Homo sapiens: one gene and its partners. The protein of the gene in region 3 interacts with the protein of the main gene of each other region in a pairwise test. Each region holds a gene or a part of one and is shown on either strand. Other genes may lie near its edges.

The links. Proteins that work in one complex are often made in the same cells at the same time.
Region 1: the proteins of LGALS14 (region 3) and REL interact in binary tests that used the Homo sapiens proteins (3 or more experiments, as listed by UniProt).
Region 2: the proteins of LGALS14 (region 3) and POF1B interact in binary tests that used the Homo sapiens proteins (3 or more experiments, as listed by UniProt).
Region 4: the proteins of LGALS14 (region 3) and JRK interact in binary tests that used the Homo sapiens proteins (3 or more experiments, as listed by UniProt).

What each region holds. Positions count from the first base shown.
Region 1 is NC_000002.12:60,912,574-60,916,073, reverse strand, and holds part of REL (proto-oncogene c-Rel), read right to left. Parts: intron 1-3,500. UniProt on the Homo sapiens protein: Proto-oncogene that may play a role in differentiation and lymphopoiesis.
Region 2 is NC_000023.11:85,310,166-85,313,665, forward strand, and holds part of POF1B (protein POF1B), read right to left. Parts: intron 1-3,500. UniProt on the Homo sapiens protein: Plays a key role in the organization of epithelial monolayers by regulating the actin cytoskeleton. May be involved in ovary development.
Region 3 is NC_000019.10:39,703,011-39,707,280, reverse strand, and holds the start of LGALS14 (placental protein 13-like), read right to left. Parts: upstream 2,801-4,270; 5' UTR 2,753-2,800; coding exon 2,738-2,752; intron 1,577-2,737; exon of another isoform or gene 1,374-1,576; coding exon of another isoform or gene 1,272-1,373; intron 685-1,271; coding exon 608-684; intron 104-607; coding exon 1-103.
Region 4 is NC_000008.11:142,656,960-142,659,967, forward strand, and holds the end of JRK (jerky protein homolog), read right to left. Parts: 3' UTR 1,986-3,008; coding exon of another isoform or gene 1,896-1,985; 3' UTR 501-1,895; downstream 1-500. UniProt on the Homo sapiens protein: May bind DNA.

The DNA.
Region 1 (3,500 bases), on a different chromosome or scaffold from region 3:
AAATGTGAACTCAAGTCATTAAATTTAGAGCCTATGCTTTTAAAAATTGAAATCTATTAGAAAATTGTACATGTGTTGTACATAAAAATGACATACACAAGAGTATCTACTAAATGTGGATCAACATTTTAAGGATGAAATACCAAGAAACAAAAAAATGTTAAGATAGCTAGTTTCCATAAGAAATTTTACGTGCAAACTTAAAAAATGTTTTAATTAAAAATTTTACAGTTCTATAAAACTAGAAAAGCTCATGATAGAATATAGTATAATAGTTTGTTAAATTAGTATTTGAACCAGAAATCCAGTTCCAAAAGAAAATATTGCCTTTTCAAATGCCATAAGCTATAGCAATAAGTCATATTTTTAAAAAGCAAGACATGCACATTATTTACATAACAATTTTACTTTGCAAAGTATTAAATTTTGAAACACTAAATTTAGAAACATAGTTAAGCCCAAATTCCTTATTTTACAGGCAATAACTAATAAAACTGATAATGTATTTTGTACTGTTTTTATTTAATGACATTGAGAGTCTACTTAGCTATCACAACATTTATAAGTATCCCAGTATTAGCATTCTTATGCTTAATCTTTGAAACAGTGCATAAAAACACATCTGTACTCTGTACAACTGAAAGGTCAAAATGTTATGATACCAACACTTGTGTTACAGCAGCATACTCTACTGGCACTATTGTGTAGGCAATATGAGAGCTACCTCTTCAAAATCCATTTTTACAGCATTATAAATGTAGCATTCAAGATATTAGTGTCTCTCAATTGCAAAGATGAGTAATCAATATGCAAAAAAGATAAATTTGTAGCTAGATGTTCCTGGTAAGTTTAAAAACAAACCTATGTGAACTCTGTGAATGGATAAACAAAGTGTGGTATAGACCTACAATGGAATAAACTCAGCAATAAAAGAGAACAAACTGGCCAGGCGTGGTGGCTCACACCTGTAATCCCAGCACTTTGGGAGGCCGAGGTGGGTGGATCATGAGGTTGGGAGATCGAGACCATCCTGGCTAACACGGTGAAACCCCGCCTCTACTAAAAATACAAAAAATTAGCCAGGCGTGGTGGCGGGCGCCTATAATCCCAGCTACTTGGGAGGCTGAGGCAGGAGAATGGTGAACCCGAGAGGCAGAGCTTGCAGTGAGCCGAAATTGTGCCACTGCACTCCAGCCTGGGCGACAGAGCAAGACTCCATCTCAAAAAAAAAAAAAAAACAAAAAAACAAGCTATGGGTATACACTCCCAAATGAATGTATCTCAAAACCATGTTGAGCAAAAGAAACCAGATACAAAAGTATACTGTATGCTTCCATTTACATGCAGTTTTAGAAAAGATTAATCTCCAGTGACAGAAGGCAGATTAGTAATTGCCTGAGGCAGAGGCAGGGTAGGGAACTGAGCGAGAAGGGGACCAGGGAAATTTTAGGGGGTGATGGAAATGTTCCATAGCTTGATTGTGGTTATGTAGCAGGACATATTCGGGTAGATTTTATTGTATCTCAATAAAAGTTTATTTTAAATATTTTTAAATGGCACATAAAAGAAAAATAAACAAACTGGTCAATAAGCCAAAGTTCAAAAACATTTAGTCACATAATAGTTCTACTACAGGGAAGAAATTCTACTTACTTCTCAAAAAAAATCACTGTTTATGAGATTTTGCTTTGAATCTTCTCAATGTGTGGAAATACAATTACTACTGCATCAGAATTACTTTCATCTCTGCACAACATGGTTAAAAACTACTGACAGGCAAGAATCATGACAGATACCCGTTTTTACCCAATGCAAGATTCAGTGTAAGGCTGAAACCCCAGCTCAAAGCTTCTTTTCTATAAAGCCTAACTTCATCCTCTGCAATGGAGGGAATATTTCTCCTCTCTAAATCAGTGCAAGACTTGACCTATACCTTTCTTATGCCCTTAAAAGTTTTAAAATCTTACATGATAATCATTTATGTATGCCTCTTCTATCCTATTAGACAAAGTTTCAAATGAAGTCAGAAGGGATGTCTGATGTATCTCCACTAGGTGTTGAACCTAGTAGTGATATTTATTATACATTTTCTCAATTAACATAAATGACTGAAGAATTACTTAAAGTCCTATTGAACAACCAAACATTTAGATACTTTTACAAGTTACTGAAGAAAGCATAAAGTAAACGTTAATAAAAAGAAGTTCTACTTTGGTAATGATAGATGATAATCTGTAAACTGGACCAATTCAACCATGAGAATAAAGTGGACAAAATATGAAACAAAATTTCTCTAATGACATTAGAGAGCTAACAAGGTCATGAAAAACCATGCGACCAAGATATGAGAGAAGAAAACCCACAGTTCAGAATGAGAGGCCACTTTTATCTGAATATAGCCTGACAATTTTCTAAGAGATGGTTAAGAAGATTGAGATGAACTCTCAATAAACTATAGGGAAAAAATAAAGGAGTTGAGAGTTTGCCAAGGATGTGGGATCTGATAAATACCCAAGGCTTTGGGGGATTTGAGGTCTGAAAGAGCTATACCCTAGGAGTAAGGGTGAACTGGAAACATATCAGATTTCAGGGATGAAAGCCCAACTTCAAATAACCTAAATCATTCACTGATTTTAGGTGACCTGGGATTGCTAGTGTACCCGGCCACTAGCCAGAAGAAAATTTTCTGCAGGGAGATAATATTGTAGGCCTAAAATCTTTACTCTTTTTCACAGAAAATGACTGGTATTTTATCTTAAATAACCACACATATGAGGAGGCAAAATAAAAAATTTTTTTTTAAAAGAAAGCAACAGGCAATAAAAACATACCACAAAGGATCCAAATAATGAAGTTTTCAGACATATAATTTAAAGTAACTATACTTAATATATTCAAGGAATTAAGATTGAGAGTTTACTGGAGAACTTGAAACTGAAAAAAAGGAATCAAATTCTAGAACTGAAAAATATAATAAATTGAAATTAAGAATATAATCAAATTTATCAAAAGTTTTATAGAAAACACTTTGTGTCTTGTCTTTTTATACCTCAAGGATTAAAATGTTTACCAACATAGTCTACCAAAAGTTTTTAAAATGTTGATTCACTTTTAAAGCCTTTAATCCATCTTCAGCTGATATTTGTATATGATGTGAGGTAGGGAATCCGACTTAATTAAATAACTATTTTTTTTTCAAGCTTCATTTCTCAAACATTTCCTCCTTTCCTCTTGATATGACATGCCACCTCTGTCATACACTAAAGTCGCATATTTCCTTAGCTCTGTTTCTGGGCTCTCAATTCTTTTTTCAATAATTATACATTTTTATTTTATCTTATAAAAATTGGGTGAATATGTAGATTTAAATTGACAAAACTGTGTATTGAACAGTTTTGTCTTTTATAGCTTAGAAGAAAGATTTTGGGCAAAAATGAAATCTCTCTTTTGGAAATGATTTATTTCTATTTTATAATACTTCTGAGCACTGTTGCAACTTC
Region 2 (3,500 bases), on a different chromosome or scaffold from region 3:
CATAATTCCAAGAACAACAAAAATCTCAACCAATAAGAAAAAACACTTAATTGATGACAACATCAAGATAATAGAAATGTTAGAATTATCTGATAAAGTGTATAAAACAACCATCATAAATACTTCAACAAGAAGTTGCAAGGAGACTGTAAAAACACATTGTCTCAATGACAAAATAGAAAGTCTCAGCAAATAAATAGAAGACATAAAGAATACCTAAATGGAAATTTTAGAACTGAAAAGGACAGTAACAAGACAAAGAAACAAAAACCAAACCAAAACAACAAAGCTCTCAAGGAGTGGGCTAAAAAGCAGAATGGAGAGAACAGAGGAAAGAATTAATGAACTTAAAGATAGAATAAAATAAAGTATATAATCTGAATATCAGAAACAAATAGATTAGAAAAAATTAAACAGAGCTTAAGGGTTTGTGGGTGTACACCACATATCTAGCTTTCATGTTCAGAGTCCTGGAAGGAAAGGAGAAAGAGGATGGAGCTGAAAAAATATTCAAAAAAATTATGGCTGAGAAGTTTCCCAAATTAGTAAAACCTGGTAACATACATATTCAAGAAGCTGAGCATATCCCAAACAATATAAACCCAAAGAAATCCATTACCAGACAAATCAGAGTCAAACTTCTTAAAACTAAAGACAAACTAAAAATTTTCAAAGCAGCAAGAAAAACATTAATTATTGGGAATAACAATTCAAATGACAACAGATTTCTCATTACAAATCATGAAGCCCAGAAGGAACTAGGATACTATTTTTTAAGTACTAAAAGAAAATAATTGTCAACTGTAAATTCTATATGCAGTGAAATTATCCTTTAGGAATGGAGGGAAATTCACATTTTCAGATGAGGGAAAATGAAAATAATTTGTTACTAGCAGACCTACCCTTAAAGAATAGCTAAAAGAAGTTGTCTAAAGAGAAGAAAATCATAAAAGAAAGAATTTGGAATATTAAGAAGGAAGATATAGCATTGTAAGCAAAAATATGGTAAATACAATAAGTTTTCCTTCTTTTCTAGAGTTTTCTTTTTTTATTATACTTTAAGTTCTGGGATACATGTGCAGAACGTGCAGGTTTGTTACATAGGTATACACGTGCCATGGTGGTTTCCTGCACCCATCAACCTGTCATCTATCTACATTAGGTATTTCTCCTAATGCTATCCCTCCCCTAGCCCCCCACCCCCTGACAGGCCCCAGTGTGTGATGTTCCCATGTGTTCTCACTGTTCAACTCCCACTTATGAGTGAGAACATGAGGTGTGTGGTTTTCTGTTTCTGTGTCAGTTTGCTGCGAATGATGGTTTCCAGCTTCATCCATGTCCCTGCAAAGGACATGAACTCATCCTTTTTAATGGCTGCATAGTATTCCATGGTGCGTATGTCCCACATTATCTAGTCTATCATTGATGGGCAATTTGGGTTGGTTCCAAGTCTTTGCTATTGTGAATAGTGCTGCAATAAACATATGTGTGCATGTGTATTTATAGTAGAATGATTTATAATCTTTGGGTATATACCCAGTAATGGGATTGCTGAGTCAAATGGTATTTCTAGTTCTAGATCCTTGAGGAAGCGCCACACTGGTTGAACTAATTTACACTCCCACCAATAATCTAAAAGCGTTCCTATTTCTCCACATCCACTCCAGCATCTGTTTTTTCCTGACTTTTTGATGATCGCCATTCTAACTCACGTGAGATGGTATCTCATTGTGGTTTTGATTTGCATTTCTCTAATGACCAGTGATGATGAGCATTTTTTCATGTTTGTTGGCTGCATTAATGTCTTATTTTGAGAAATGTCTGTTCATACCCTTTGGCCACTTTTTGATGGGGTTGTTTGTTTGATTCTTGTAAATTTGTTTAAATTCTTTGTAGATTCTGGGTATTAGCCCTTTGTCAGATGGATAGATTGCAAACATTTTCTCCCATTCTGTAGGGTGCCTGTTCACTCTGATAATAGTTTCTTTTGCTGTGCAGAAGCTCTTTAGTTTAATTAGATCCCATTTGTCAATTTTTGCTTTTGTTGCTATTGCTTTTGGTGTTTTAGTCATGAAGTCTTCCCCATGCCTATGTCCTGAATGGTATTGCCTAGGTTTTCTTCTAGAGTTTTTATGGTTTTAGGTCTTACCTTTAAGTCTTTAATCCATCTTGAGTTAATTTTTGTATAAAGTGTAAGGAAGGGGTCCAGTTTCAGTTTTCAGCATATGGCTAGCCAGTTTTCCCAGCATTATTTATTAAACAGGGAATCTTTTCCCCATTGCTTGTTTTTGTAAGGTTTGTCAAAGATCCAATAGTTGTAAATGTGTGGCATTATTTCTGAGGCCTCTGTTCTGTTCCATTGGTCTATCTCTCTGTTTTGGTACCGGTACCATGCTGTTTTTGTTACTGAAGCCTTGTAGTATAGTTTGAAGTCAGGTAGCATGATGCCTCCAGCTTTGTTCTTTTGGCTTAGGATTGTCTTGGATATATGGGCTCTTTTTTTGGTTCCATATGTAATTTAAAGTATTTTTTCTAATTCTGTGAAGAAAGTCAATGGTAGCTTGATGGGGTTAGCACTGAATCTATAAATTATTTTCAGCTGTATGGCCATTTTCAAGATATCGATTCTTCCTATCCATAACAATGGAATGTTTTTCCATTTGTTTGTGTCCTCTCTTATTTCCTTGAACAGTGGTTTGTAGCTCTCCTTGAAGAAGTCCTTCACATCCCTTATAAGTTATATTCCTAGGTATTTTATTCTCTTTGTAGCAATTGTGAATGTGAGTTCACTCAAGATTTGGCCCTCTGTTTGTCTATTATTGATGTATAGGAATGTTTGTGACTTTTGCACATTGATTTTGTATCTTGAGACTTTGCTGAAGTTGCTTATCAGCTTAAGGAGATTTTGGGTTGAGACGATGGGGTTTTCTAAATATACAATCATGTCGTCTGCAAACAGAGACAATTTGACTTCCTCTCTTGCTATTTGAATCCCCTTTATTTCTTTCACTTGCCTTGTTGCCCTGGCCAGAACTTCCAATACTATGTTGAATAGGAGTAGTGAGAGAGGGCATCCTTGTCTTGTGCCGGTTTTCAAAGACAATGCTTCCAGCTTTTGTCCATTCAGTATGATATTGGCTGTTGGTTTGTCGTAAATAGCTCTTATTATTTTGAGATACATCCCATCAATACCTAGTTTATTGAGAGTTTTTAGCATGAAGCGGTGTTGAATTTTATCAAAGGCCTTTTCTGCCTTTATTGAGATAGTCATGTGGTTTTTGTCATTGATTCTGTTTATGTAATGGATTATGTTTATTGATTTGCATATGTTGAATCAGCCTTGCATTCCAGCGATGAAGCTGACTTGATCATGGTGGATAAGCTTTTTGATATGCTGCTGGATTCAGTTTGCTGTATTTTATTGAGGATTTTTGCATCGACGTTCATCAGGGATATTGGCCTGAAATTTTCCTTTTTTGTTCTGTCTCTGCCAGATTTTG
Region 3 (4,270 bases):
GTTCATGATTGCAGGATGACCAAAGTGCAGTCGGAATTGGAAAGCAATATCTGAGTCCTCATCCATCCCAGTGTAGAAATTCACCTCCAGCTGTGGGTCCTTGCTGAGGTCAAAGCACACAGCATGTTGGGCAGGTCCCCCCATTGTGCAGACACACACTCGCCACACACACAAATCCCTTCCCCCCTTTACCCAGGGCAAAAAGTCTCCCCGATGATACTGCAGTCCTGGTCCCTGTGGGGACGCTTTAGCTCCTCATGCCCCCAGGCAGGGAGATGCTGTGTTCCTCATCCCCAGACAAAAACTGAGCGCCAGTCAGTGACATGGGCCTATGACTTGTTCATTTCCTGAAAATTCTATGCCCTTTAATAAAGAGCCACAACCCAAACCCACTGAGTGTTCTCCTCCCCTAGGTTCCGTGGCTGGCCTGCATGCAGTTTCTACAGGTCTCATGTCTGTTGCTGGAAGGTCTCCAGGGCCTGCACTTGCATGAGGCCTTCATTATGCCAACTAGAGTTTTCCACATCACTCACACATAAGGTTAAACCCTTAGCAAATATTCTCCCTTCTCTCCTCCACCCCCTCCATTGGACCATGGAGTACTCACACAAAAGTGAGGATCGGTGTCCCTGTGATTATCACGCACGAACCAACAGGCAAGGAAACAGGCAGTGTGTATGGTACCTGCCAGGGTATGGAGAGTGAGTGAGAGCTAAAGGGTAAGGTGTAACCTCCCCTATGTAACAGATTCCCATGGTGCAGGAGGTTAGAGATCAAAGGTCAGACTCTGAGGCCTCTCCCCTTTCACCCTACCACAGTCAGGGCCCCATATTCCTGAAGATATGGTGGATCCATAGGTAAGAGCAATTGTTCAAGAGCCCGGATGCCTGGATTCCAGTCCTCATTTTGCCTTATACTAGCAGTGCAATCTTAGATCTATTACTTAACCTCTCCCTGCCTCAGTTTCCCCAGGACAAGGAGGACTATCAGGAATTCCTACTTTGTAGGGTGTTCTCAGTAATAGAGGAGTTAATATAGGTAAAACTTTTACCCTAATCCCTGGCATGTATAGGGTCAATTAGGGGTGACCTAACAGAACAGGGGAGTCCTCCTGAAACACTGACCTGCCTTATTTTCAACTCAGAAAATGAAAACAAGACTTGAGGGTGAAAGAATTTAAAAATTCACTCCAGTGAGAAACAACACTTGTTGAAAGAGAAAGGGAAATGACGAAAGAACAGGAAACCCCTGTGTGTGGGATGTACACGCACCACAATCATCAAGGGCAATGGACGTCCTTCCCAGAAGCGGCACACATTACTGACAGCACAGCCCCAGTACTTGCACAAATGAAGCCTGTGGGTCAGGGACATAACTGGAGGGAATGATTGATTTCTACGACGACTGCAAGTGGTTGATGATTTTTCTGTATTTTTGAGATAGGGTCTTGCTCTGTCACCCAGGCTGATATGCAGTGGTGCAATCACAGCTCACTGAAACATCGAACTCCTGGACTGCAGTGATCCTCACACATCTGCCCCCTCTTGTGTAGCTGGGGTGAAAGGTGTCTGCCACTCTGCCAGTCAGATATTTAAAGATTTTTAAAGAAAGCATATCACTATGATGCCTAGACCGGTCTCAAATTTCTGGCCTCAAGTTACCCTCCCATCTTTGCCTCCCAAATTGGTGGGATTATAGTCATGAACCAGTGAACCCAGCTGCTTTGTTGAGTAATGTCCACAGTAAGCACTGTCTGAATTCAGACAGCTTGTTCTTTCATGAGTGGAGGAACAAGTTTAGTCTCAGTTCAGACAGAGCTTACAGTGGATATTTTGTTTGATTCCGTCTCTTTAACCACGGCCTCTAATATTCTTCCCTGGCAAATCAGTATCTTCACACTCGCCTGTTCCACAATGGGAAGAACAGGCTGGGCTAGCGACAGGGAAGCTGAGCCTGGGAGGCAAAAGCCAGTGATCACTCTGTGCAGTCCCCACCTGAGGAACCATCTCTCCCATAATCTGCGTTCCTTTTCCTCACTCTTACTGGGAAGAGATATCTACTGATGATATATTTCGCTCTCATAAGTGATCTGAAACGAGTCCTTGGTAACTCACAATCCCCAAGATCCCCACCAGTTAAGCCACTTGGGATCCACATTGCCACACATGAAAAGACACACAGGTGCTTCATCAGAGGTGCTGCTGTGTGGGGAGGAACCTTCACATGCACAGAAGGCCACGTGCATGTTTTCCCTTCAATACCCAGTCACATCCCAGCACACACACCCATAGTCACACAGAGCCATGCCACTCACTGAGTTACACACACCTGCTCACTGTGCACATAAAGATGACCATGCACTGGTCTGGCTGTGCCCACACACACTCACATCACAGACAGGAAGACAAAGCACACTCACCCCCTTACACTCACTCACACACTTGCCGGTCCTGGTGGGTCATCCACCTCCCACCTAAAGTCACTTAATCTCAGCAGAGTTCACTCTCATCAGACACCACCACACCCTCACAGAGGGTTACACTGGTCCAGGGTCCACAGCCTACACCCACAATCATCTCAGATACCACAGCCTCAGGGTTTCTCTTCTACACACCCACAACTCTCGGTAATGCATTCACAGTAGGAATGCTCATATTTTCAACTCAGAAAACCTCCCCTGTTTCTTTCTTGGTTTATGTGACTTGAGATTATTGAAGGCTGTGACTTTTCAACTCACGGGTAGTGATGACATTGTTCTCTCCTTCTGGGCAGCTCTTCGGAATTGTGTCCAGTCTTCTGTGTGAATCTCTGAGTGGGATCATTTAAATGCTGCAACTCAGAGATGCCCTTTGGCTTCATGCCAGATTCCAAGCCCCTCCCAGCAAGCTTTCCGTGCAGCAGGAGAAAGACTCAGGTGTCAGAAAGAAACTCTGTCACAACCATAGATGTTTGCAGGTCTGTGTCTGTAATGCAGCAGAAATGACAGTGGGGGAGGTACCAGGCTGTGGATTGGGTTACCAGGGAAATGCATAGATAAGGATGATGGAGTGAGGGGTAGGGATTGTAAAGCCCAGCCTTTGTGCCTCTCAAGCTTTTTCTCCAGTATGCAGAATCTAGCCAGAAGGTGTACATTTCCTCAATTTGTACAATGACTAAAAATAAAAAATTGGGAATTTTGGAAAAAGACGTTAGACCTAGAAGGTAATTCTTCTCTTTGCCTTTAAAGGTTCTGGGAGGGCCTTTAAGGGTCAGATCCTTTTGACCTTGATCCTCAGGAGGATCTGGGAAGAGAAGTAGAGATAGTTCTTGCATGAACCTGCCTCACACTAGGCCCCTTGGATCTGCCAGGTGAGGGTCACTCTCATCTGTCTGTCACATACCTGGGCTCTAGCTGCATTCTCTGCTTTGTCTTGGAGTCCATGTAAAACAAAGTTTCAGAGATATTGTTTCTCCTGCAGATTCTGGGAGAAAGATGAGATTTTTTTTCTTTTTTCTTTTTTTTTACTTTTATTATAGGTTCAGGGGTACATATGCAGATAAAGTCATGTCATGAGGTTTGTGGTACATATGATTTCTTCACCTGGGTACTAAGCGTAGTACCCAATAGTTATTTTCTCTGCTCCTATCTCACCTTTCACCCTCCAACCTCAAGTAGGCTTCTGTGTGTGTTGTTCCCCTATTGGTGTCCATGAGTCTCATCATTTAGTTCACAATTATAAGTGAGAACATGCAGTATTTGGTTTTCTGTTCCTGCATTAGTTTGCTAAAAATAATGGCCTCCAGCTCCATCCATGTTCCTGCAAAAGACATGAACTCATTCTTTTTTAGGGCTTCATAGTATTCCATTGTGTATATGTATCACATTATCTGTATCCAATCTGTCCTTGATGGCATTTGGGTTCATTCTGTGTCTTTGCTATTGTGCACAGTGTTGCAATGAACATTCATATGCATATGTCTTTAAGGCAGAATAATTTCTATTCTTCTGTGTATACAGTAGTGTATACACCATTCCCAGTAATGGGATTGCGGGGTTTAATGGTAGTTCTGTTATAAGCTCTTTGAGGAATCACCACACTGCTTTCCACAATGGGTGAGCTAATTTACACCACCGCCAATAATCTGTAAGTGCTCCTTTTTCTCCACACCCTTGCCAGCATCTGTCCTTTTTTGACTTTTTAAGAAGAGCCATTCTGACTGGTGTGAGATGGTATCTCATTGTAGTTTTGATTTGCATTTCTCTAATGTTCAGTGATATTGAGCTTTTATT
Region 4 (3,008 bases), on a different chromosome or scaffold from region 3:
GAGGCAGAAGTTCTCCAACATTATGTCTCTGTGGAAGCCTCTGGGGAGGGCTTAGGAATTGCCAACTCCTCTAGTGAAGTCACTGCCACATCCGCGCAGCACACAGAACTTCACGGACCTGAAGCAGGCTGGAAACTCTGCTCTCTCCTTACAGAAACTGGAGGAGCTCAGACATAATTGCTGGAGAGGGCATGAAGGCACAAGGCCTGGGCTGACTTGCACTGCTAGATGAGTCCTATACTCACTCACCCATCCTCTACAATCATGCTACCCAGACCCCTTGTAACTAGTTGTACTCATATGACTGGGACCTGGCTCGAGGGACAGGAGCAGAAGTGGTGTGCTTTCTGGAGGCAGACACAGTGGTGGGGAGGCAGACACAGTGGTGGGGATTAGAGCAGGTGTCCTGTAACATCTTCAACCCTGTGGCTCCCTTCATGAAATACACATGGCATGTCTTGGTCTGTTTGCATGGTTATAAAGTAACACCTGAGGCTGAGTAATTTATAAAGAAAAGAGGTTTATTTGGCTCACAGTTCTGCAGGCTGTACAAGCAGCATGGTGCCAGCATTTGCTTCTGGTGGGGGCTTCAGGGAGCTTCCACTCATGACGGAAGGCAAAGGGCAGCAGCATCACATAGCAAGAGCAGGAGGAAGAAGGGAGGGAGGTGCCACCAGGCTCTTTTTAACAAACAGTTCTCACAGAAACTAATCAAGTGAGAACTCACTTGTTACCACAAAGATGGCACCAGGCTATTCATGAAGGATCCATCCCGATAACAGGAACATTTCCCACCAGGCCCCACCTTCAACACTGGGGATCAAATTTCCATATAAGATTAGAAAGGGACAAACATCCAAACTGTATCATGGCAGAAGGAGCCTGGCTCTGCCAGACAGTTGAGCTGTTTCATTAGCCCTGATTTCCCTTCTCAACTAGTATGTGTGCAAGCACTGAACTGCTATCTTGCGTACACAACTCCAGGGTCCCTCTGTTATTGGCGCTGGGTAGGGTATGGTGGGAATCCTCCAGGCCCTGGCCATGAGGTGCTCCGTATTTATTGCCTCTGTCCGGGTCATGGTGGGCAGGTGGGTCTGCCTCCCCTTCTGGACCAGGTGAACCTTAACAATAGGTGCATGTTTTACTCATTCCAAGTCCCCCAGGGGCCTGGCCCATGACTGGCACTGAGGAGTTAGGGGCAATGGCAGAACTGCCTGGACCTGAAGCAGGCTGGAACCTCTGTTCTCTCCTTACTGCCTGTCTCAGTCAGTTTTGATTGCGATAACAAAATACCACAGGCTAGGTGTCTTAAACAACATAAATTAATTTTTCACAGATCTGGGGACTGAAAGTCCAATATCAAAGGCACTGGCAGTCTGGTGTCGGCTGAAGGCTTTCTCATTTGCAGATGGCAATTTTCTATTTTATTTCCTTTTTTTTTTTTTTTAGCAATAAGGTCTTATCATGCCTAGGCTGGTCTCGAACTCCTGGACTCATGCAATCCTAATGCCTTGGCCTTCCAGTGCTGGGATTACAGGCGTGAGCCACTGCACCCAGCTTGAAGATGGCAGTTTTCTTGTATGCTCACACAGCACAAAGTGACCTCGCTCTAGTTCCTTCCTTTTCTTATAAGGACTCGATCTCATCGGCGAGCCCCACCCTCACGATCTCACCTAAGCCTAGTCACCTCCCAAAGGCCCCACCTCCTAATACCACCCTCCTGGGGGTCAGGGTTTCAACATATAAACTTTGGGGGGGGACACAAACATGCAGTCCTTAACACCATCGTCATGGAGATGGAGGCCACAGACCTACCAACACCCATAACCTCAAGGGCACTGGTGGGGACAGAGGGGTCTTACCCAGCACTGCCATGTGGCAGAAGTTCTCCAACATTATGTCTCTGTAGAGGCCTCCAGGCAGCACTTAGGAATTGCCAACTCCTCTGGTGAGGTCACTACCACATCCTCAAGGCCCACAGTCTCCTGAAACAACAGAACTTTGCTGCTTCATGGAGGAGCGTCAGTATGTCCACACCATAGGGGTGTAGTCACTTCCCTCTGCCAGGGAGAATGGTGGAGGAAGAATGGATTCCTAGTGTATTTTTTCTCTTCAGAACTGACAGCCCATCAAGGTACAATGAAATAGAAAAAAGGCTGGCCAGGTGCCAAGTCCCAGCTCAAGCCTGGCAGCTCCTCCCACTGAGCCTCATGGTCACCCCAGAGGACAGGCCTTCCTTTCACACACATCAGAAATAGGGAACCCAAGACCTCGAGAGAGGAAATGGGCCCAGGGACATGCCTTGGCTTGGGGTGGCTTAGGACCAGGGCAAGACGCCTGACCCCAGAGCAGACCATGCTGACACTGGGCAACACATTCCCTGCTCTGGACCTCAGTTCCTTTGGCTACTAAGGAGGCCCAACGATCCTCGCCTGTGTGGGACGGGGCTACCTGCAGACATAGAGGGCCTTTGAGCACCTCGTAGCTTGCTTCCCAGCCAGCCTGGGTGTGGAAATGGCCGTGCTGACAGGCTCTCTGCGATAGGGCCCAGCCATGGCCAGTGGGCCTCCCACAATCTGCCCCTGGGTGCAGGGCCTTGAGCAGGGAGGCCATCGTGCTGCCTAAGAGACCAGGACCCAGCAGGGGCCATACCCAGATTCAGAGGCTCAGGACCACCACGGAACTGAAAGGAGGTTCAAGGCCTCAAACAAGAGTGGCCCCTAAAACAGTTGGTAAAGGAGTGTTTTCACCTCTGTTTACAGTTGAGTGCACTGCTCAAGGTCATGCAGCTGGTGAACAGCAGGGAGTGAGCAGTGGAGAACGTGAGGCTGGTCATTAGGAGCAGGTAGCCCTGGGTCTCCCTCTGCCCTCAGCAACTTCACACCTGCCCCTCCCTGGGCCCCAGTCTCATCCCTAAACAGGAGTGACCCCACCTCATTTCATGTCATCATCACTGCCCTGCAAGGGAAACAACAGATGTGCAAGGTCTGAGGGTCCATGTGTAGAAG